Homo sapiens: one gene and its partner. The protein of the gene in region 1 interacts with the protein of each later gene in a biochemical or structural test. Each region holds a gene or a part of one and is shown on either strand. Other genes may lie near its edges. The genes, in order: CCDC43 and MFHAS1.

Evidence for each region.
Region 2: the proteins of CCDC43 (region 1) and MFHAS1 form a complex in vitro, tested with the Homo sapiens proteins (one large-scale study listed by BioGRID and IntAct).

What each region holds. Positions count from the first base shown.
Region 1 is NC_000017.11:44,679,660-44,683,479, reverse strand, and holds part of CCDC43 (coiled-coil domain-containing protein 43), read left to right. Parts: intron 1-1,341; coding exon 1,342-1,477; intron 1,478-2,836; coding exon 2,837-2,895; intron 2,896-3,820.
Region 2 is NC_000008.11:8,886,953-8,890,772, reverse strand, and holds part of MFHAS1 (malignant fibrous histiocytoma-amplified sequence 1), read left to right. Parts: coding exon 1-712; intron 713-3,820. UniProt on the Homo sapiens protein: Probable GTP-binding protein. Functions in innate immunity and more specifically the inflammatory response as a regulator of the Toll-like receptor TLR2 and TLR4 signaling pathways.

The DNA of each region.
Region 1 (3,820 bases):
TCAGCTCACTGTAACTGCTGCCTCCCAGATTCAAGTGATTCTTGTGCCTCAGCCTCGTGAATAGCTGGGACTACAGGCTCATGTCACCATGCCTGGCTAATTTTTGTGTTTTTAGTAGAGATGGGGATTTCACCATGTTGACCAGGCTGGTCTCGAACTCCTGACCTCATGTGATCTGCCCACCTCAGCCTCCCAAAGTGCTGGGATTACAGGCATGAGCTACAGCACCCTGCCTCATGTTGTCATTTCATAACACAAATTATGGTTGGTATTTGGCTTTATTCAGCTAAACACTTTACCCTTTAAAATGGAAGAGAAATGGGCGAATATACCCACCACTAGGATGGTAAATTAGGTACAGAAAACTCAAATCATAAAAGCCAAATTTGGAAAGATTCTGAACTCTGTACACTGTTGGTTCTCAGTTTTGGCTGTATATTAGAATCACTTAATGTACCTGGGTTGGGGCCCAGGCATTTGTATTTTTTAAAAGCTCCTGTAGGTGATTCTAATGTGCAACCAAGTGTGAGAACTACTATTTTACACCATTGTTTCCTTTTCTTGAGACTGGAGAACTTACTAGTTGATTTTATTTTATAGCATGGCAAAATATTTTTTTTTTTGAGACGGAGTTTTGCTCTGTCGCCCAGGCTGGAGTGCAGTGGCGTGATCTCGGCTCACTGCAAGCTCCGCCTCCCCGGGTTCACGCCATTCTCCTGCCTCAGCCTCCCGAGTAGCTGGGACTACAGGCGCCCGTCACCACGCCTGGCTAATTTTTGTATTTTTAGTAGAGACGGGGTTTCACTGTGTTAGCCGGGATGGTCTCGATCTCCTGACCTCATGATCCACCTGCCTTGGCCTCCCAAAGTGTTGGGATTACAGGCGTGAGCCACCGCGCCCGGCCAAAATATTCTTAATCTAAGAATTCCACCTGGCATAATCAGAAACATAAACAGGACCAGCTTAAGTTGATTTTAGATTCCTGCTTAGGTTTTTGGGATGCCATGGGGAAGTTGAGTGTTCAGAGGCTTAGTTTTCTGTGGTTCTAATGCAGTGCTTTTCAACCTTTTTTTTTTTTTTTTTTTTTTAAGGCAGCAGAACTTCAGTATATAAAACAAGTAAAATCAGGGCTGCTCTGATTGAAGATGGATACAAAGCTTGGCCTGCATGGCCTTTCCTTTCCTTTCTCAATGGCCCCCGAGCCATGTCCTTTGAACTGCCAGGCTCTAAGGAGGCAGCAGATGCCAATGTCTTCAGTACAAGTGCTGCCTATGTGGACTAGTGGTTCAGTGAGCTTGTTCTCTCTCATACAACCTTGTTCTTCCTTCCACCACCTCCCAGATGAAGTACAGGCCATTGCCACCCTAATTGAGAAGCAGGCACAAATCGTAGTAAAGCCAAGGATGGTGTCAGAAGAGGAGAAGCAGAGAAAAGCTGCCCTCCTGGCCCAGTATGCTGATGTGACAGATGAAGAGGAATATCCTTTCTGGAGTCTCGGCACCATTCCCTAAAGCTCAAGCCAGACATATTTGTGGGTTTACAGTGACCTTTGGCAAGTTGCTAATCCCCCTCTATAGCTTAATTTTCCCCTCTAAAATGGCAGTAATCTATGGCCCTTTGTGGATATGCGGAGTGATATTGGATTAGTTGATACTGGACTTATATTTTTCAACACATAATCATTATATTCCTGAAAACTTTGGTGTAAAACAAATAATGTCTTAATAGTCCATTTATATTATGCTTTCAGAAAATACAATATAGCTGTAATTCTTTATATTTGTATAATACTTTTCTATACAGTGTAGTATAAAGTATAATCCATCTTTATGTTCTTTCCCAGTCAATAAGGAAACTGAGACACCAACAGATGAATGGGTGATCAGAGGCATTCAGAAGATTAGTGGCAAAACCAGGACTAGAACCTGGGTATTTTTGGGTGAAAGATTCTCTAAATTTAGAGCAGCTTGCATCTTTTCTTTCTTATGTGACCAGGTAGTTAAAAGTAAGGCTGAACCTCCAAAGCAATACCAGAATAATTCTGGACAGAGTCTCGCTTCGTCGCTTAGGCTGGAGTGCAGTGGTACAATCTCGGCTCACTGCAACCTCTGCCTCCCGGGTTCAAGCCATTCTCCTGCCTCAGCCTCCCGAGTAGCTGGGACTATAGGCACGTGCCACCACGCCCAGCTAATTTTTCGTATTTTTAGTAGAGACAGTGTTTCACCATGTTAGCCAGGCTGGTCTCGATCTCCTGACCTCATGATCTGCCTGCCTCACCCTCCCAAAGTGCTGGGATTACAAGCGTGAGCCACCGCGCCTGGCCTCTCTTCTAATTTTTTTTTTACGAGTTTTCTTGCCAGGGTTGGCAGAGCTATGGTTCCGGTGACATAATTTCTCATCTTGGGCTAGAAAAGGACTTTTAAAGCAGTGGTTCTCCTGGAGGACTTGTTAAAACACAGATTGCTGGGCTTCACCCACAATTTAGTAGGTTTGGCATAGGTCCCAAGAATGTGTATTTCTAATATATTCCTGGGGGTTTTGTGAACCACACTTTGAGAACCACTGTTTAAAGGTCATCTGGCTTCCAGGTAATGTGGCAATCCACCCAGACCAACTTAAGTTTCTTTTCAGCCTCCAAGAAAAGGATCTTATAGAAGATATATCAATCTTTCCTAAGTTGAGGTTTCCAAAGATGAATCTCCTGGGTTTATCGCCATATCCCTGATAATGTGCTCCCTCCATTCAGTGTGCTTTTCCTACTTACCAGTCTATTGAATGTTTTCTAATGTTAGGTTGGGATGTTGTTTTCCATCTGACTTTCCTTAACATCACTTACTGAAGCAGATGAGAAGGATGATTCAGGTGCTACCACAATGAACATTGGTTCTGACAAACGTATCCTTCTGGGTCCCTCCCTATGTGTTTCTCCATAGAGTCCTCTTGAGATCAGTTTTTATTTTGCTGTCATTGCTGGCGGCTCCCCTTTACCTTCAGGAACTCATGTCATGCTAACATTGGGAGCCCTATTCCTAGGACAGCCCTAGATAGTCAGTTTAGCAAGAACTTTCCCCAGAGAAAACAAGTTAACAAGTACTGTAAAGGGATTAGTTTGGAGGAAGGATTTCTAAGGGAAAAATAAAAATCTATACTCTGAGTTGCCCAGCATTAGGGAGAAAATTAAAATAATATTGAGGTCAGGCGTGATGGCTTACACCTGTAGTCCTGGCACTTTGGGAAGCCGAGACAGGTGGATCGTTTGAGCCCAGGAGTTTGAGACCAGCCTGGGCAACATGGCAAAACCCTGTCTCTACTAAAAAAAATACAAAACACTAGCCAGGTGTAGTGGCATGTGCCTATAGTCATAGTCCCAGATACTCAGGAGGCTGAGGTGGGAGAATCACCTGAGCCCAGGAAGTCAAGGCTGCAGTGAGCCGAGATCTTGCCACTGCACTCTGGCCTGGGATATGAGAGTGAGACTGTGTCTCAAAAAATAATAAAATAATGTTGAAATTTTCTCTTTTTCCTCAAAAACCTTATAATTTGTCAGAGAATACAAACACCAAACACTTTTTTTTTTCTTTTTTTTGGGACAGAGTCTCGCTCTGTTGCCCAGGCTGGAGTGCAGTGGTGCGATCTCGGCTCACTGCAGCCTCCGCCTCCTGGGTTAAAGTGATTCTCCTGCCTTAGCCTCCCGAGTAGCTGGGACTACAGGTGTGTGTGCCACCATGCCCGGCTAATTTTTTGTATTTTTAGTAGAGACGGGGTTTCACCTGTTAGCCAGGATGGTCTCGATCTCCTGACCTCATGATCTACCTGCCTC
Region 2 (3,820 bases), on another chromosome or scaffold:
GAGGGGGAAAGCTCCCCGCCCATGGCGCGGTCCACCCCCAGCCAGGAACTGCTCCGGGCCACCCAGCTCCATCAGTATGTGGAGGGCTTTCTGTTGCATGGGCTCTTGCCAGCTCATGTCATTCGGTTGCTGCTTAAGCCTCATGTCCAGGCCCAGCAGGACTTGCAGCTGTTGCTGGAGCTGCTGGAGAAGATGGGACTCTGTTACTGCCTCAATAAACCCAAGGGCAAGCCTTTGAATGGGTCCACAGCTTGGTACAAGTTCCCATGCTATGTGCAGAACGAGGTGCCCCATGCAGAAGCCTGGATTAATGGGACCAACCTAGCTGGGCAGTCTTTTGTGGCTGAGCAGTTGCAGATTGAATATAGCTTTCCTTTTACTTTTCCACTTGGGTTGTTTGCACGCTACAGTGTCCAGATCAACAGCCATGTGGTGCACAGGTCGGATGGTAAATTTCAGATCTTTGCCTATAGAGGGAAAGTTCCTGTGGTTGTGAGTTACAGACCTGCCAGGGGAGTCCTGCAGCCAGACACCCTGTCCATTGCTAGCCATGCATCATTACCAAATATATGGACCGCATGGCAAGCCATAACCCCCTTGGTGGAGGAACTGAATGTCCTACTTCAGGAATGGCCTGGACTGCACTACACCGTGCACATTCTCTGTTCTAAGTGCCTTAAGAGAGGATCGCCCAATCCACATGCTTTTCCAGGTAAGTGGAGAGAGGGAGAAGTTCTTCTGTGGTATGCTGTAAGATATGTTTTTGGAGATACTTGGTTGTCATTTGGCAGAATGTTTGTTTAACTTCACGGGTTCTCCAGGAAAGCTTCGTAAGGGAAACACAGGGAGATTTGGAGATGAGCAAAAGGTAGTAAGTACCTGAGCCTTATGAAATGCAGTCACAAGTGTCATCCTCTCCTAACAGACTCAGACTTCCAAAATGGGTTCCAGTCACAACATTTGCCATCTCCTTTCCCCTCTTGTCGATGTAGCCCACATTTGGTGGAAGGAAATTTCAGGTGGTTGAACAGATAGATTCTGGACAGTGTCCGATGTTAGCCTCTTACTGATCGTTGGCTAAAGTGTTCATTAGACACGTCTCAAAGGGGTAGATGAGTTTGAGTTTCAAGTGTCCAGTGTCACAATTTTTTAAAAAACTTAAATTTTCGTGAGTACATAGGTTTGTATATTTGTGGGGTGCATGAGATGTTTTGATACAGGCATGCAATGCATAGAAATCAGATTGTAAAATGCGGTATCCATCCCCTCAAGCATTTAAGCACTCTGCTTACATTCAGAATGTAATTAGAAAGTAAAAATTACTGCTCACTTTTCTTAAGAAATTCCAGAGAAAATCTTTTGTAATTGGAGTGAACAATGGATGAGTAAAGACAGAAATTTCAGACTGTAATGCATGACTAAATCCTGGGGCTGCTGCTCCCCTCCGCCCACTCAGGGACATGGAAGATAGATGACTGAAATCTTTGAGGGGCGTTTCCTCGGGAATTTCCTGGCAGTTTCGAGTTTTATAGACGTCTTAAGGTTTGTTTTTTGGTAAGTGTTAAGCAAATGAAGCTTTCTGGCAGTGCTTAATAATTGAGACGGAAGGGACAGAAAGCTAAGAGTTTTCTGGAGAGTGTTTTCCAGTAGACTTTTTTTTCGTTTTCTTTTTTTAAACCATCATAAGCAAGTGGAAGAATTCCAGGACTAGTTGTCTGGGGTTTTTTGTTTTTTTTTTTTTTGAAGACTTTTTTTTTTTTCTTAGAGCAGTTTTAAGTTTATAGCAAAACTGAACAGAAGGTACAGAGATTTCCCATATATCCCCTTCCCCACATGCGTAGCTTCACCAACGTCAACATCTCCCACCAGAGCAGTACATTTGTTTCAGTTGATAAACCTGCAGTGACACATCAGTACCAGCCAAAGGTCATAGTTTACACAGGGTTTACTCTGTGTTGGGCATTCTGTGGGTTTGGACAAATGTCCAATGACCTGTATCCCCCATTATAGTATCATACAGAGTAGTTCTACTGCTTTAAAAATCCTCTGTGCTCTGCCAATTCATTCCCCCCAACCCCGGCAACCACAGATCTTTTTACTGTCTCCATAAGTTTTGCGTTTTACTTATATGGGATTTTTTTCTTTTGAGCCTGGTTAATTGGTATCAAACTAGTTTTTAGTTGGGAACGTGTCCATTTCCTCATCCTTTGTAGTTCTTTAAACAACTGTTTTTGTGTGTGTGTGTGTGTGTGTGTTTTGTTTTTTGTTTTTTTGTGGAGCAGGTGGTTAACAACATTCCAAGTGTCCTAAGCACAAACCAGACAGAACAATAGCATCCTTGCACGTTTCTCACCTGGGTCCCCACCCCCAGGGGACCCGGAGGGGTGATGAAATGGAAGACTGCGTCCCACTCTGATCTTTGTCCTGGTCAGAGAGGGACAACAAGAATGCAGCTGGTAATAGTATCAGGAAGGAATTGAATACCAATATTTCCGAAGGTGACATCTTTCCGTTGCCCTGGATCTAGGTTGAATTTAATTCTTAAGCATGAAAAAAGCCAGCGTATTCAGTTACCAGTCAACTGAGACATCCATTCTGTATGTTTATCTGGAATCTTGTCACACTCCATGACTTGGTAGACTCTTCAGTTTGTTTTATATTTGTCATTGTGTGTTATTCATGGAAGCAAGATACTTCTTTATTGTGATACCAAATGGAATAAAGTGACTGGGAGTTACGCATTTACAGGGTAGTTTACTGAAGGAGCAACCTGAAGCCATTCTTAATCCAAAGTAATAAAAACGAATGTTATTAACAACAAAAGGAGAGACATAGGTTATTGAGCAAGTAAAGATCTTCTAAGAACTTTGAGGAGTTAGGGGCGAGGCTGGAGGTTTTTTTTTTTTTTTTTTTGTTTTTTTTGCTAACGTCAGCTCTTTATGTTTAATTTTTACCAGTCATAAATTCCACAGACAAGCTTGTACTGAGATGCAGAAACAAGCCCCTTGTCTTGTGTTGTCTATTTGCCTTTCAAATGAGGCACACCTGGTTTTGCAATCCAGGCTATAAGGAAGAGATTTTTTTTCAATGTGGAAAACAAATGATTGAAAAATTGTAAAATTATCTTATAGATTGAATAGGAATAAATCATCAGTTGTTTTTAGAGCACGATTATAAAATATATACATATACATATAATTATAAAATATGTACATATAAAATATATATGTATATATACACCAACGTACATATTTTTGTCTTATAGTCTTTTTGTTTTTTTTTGAATTGTGTTGTTTTTCAAAAGTAGCAGAGGGTATAGAATAGTAGAAAACATGATTATAGTACATTTCTCGTTACATTAAGAAGATGCAAAAAACATTTTCCTCTTCTGTATTTTTCTGTGATAGCCATCATTTGTTAGTAATTGTTACAGTTACGAAAGATTTGGTAAAAGTTAAAATAATGAGTTAGAAATAAAAGCTAAATGTGGGAACAGAATTATGTTGAGTGTTTAAGTAGAGCATACATTAAAAATAGATTCATTGAATCCCTAGATTATTAAAATATATATTAATTCAGCAGAAACCCTTTGAATCTATTGGCAGCCTTTGCCTTTTCATGTTTTTTTGTTTGTTTGTTTGTTTTTGAGATGGAGTCTTGCTCTGTTGCCCAGGCTGGAGTGCAGTGGAGTGATCTTGACTCACTGCAACCTCTGCCTCCTGGATTCAAGCGATTCTCCTGCCTCAGCCTCCCAAGTAGCTGGAATTAGAGGCATGCGCCACCACACCTGGCTAATTTTTGTATTTTTAGTAGAGGCGGG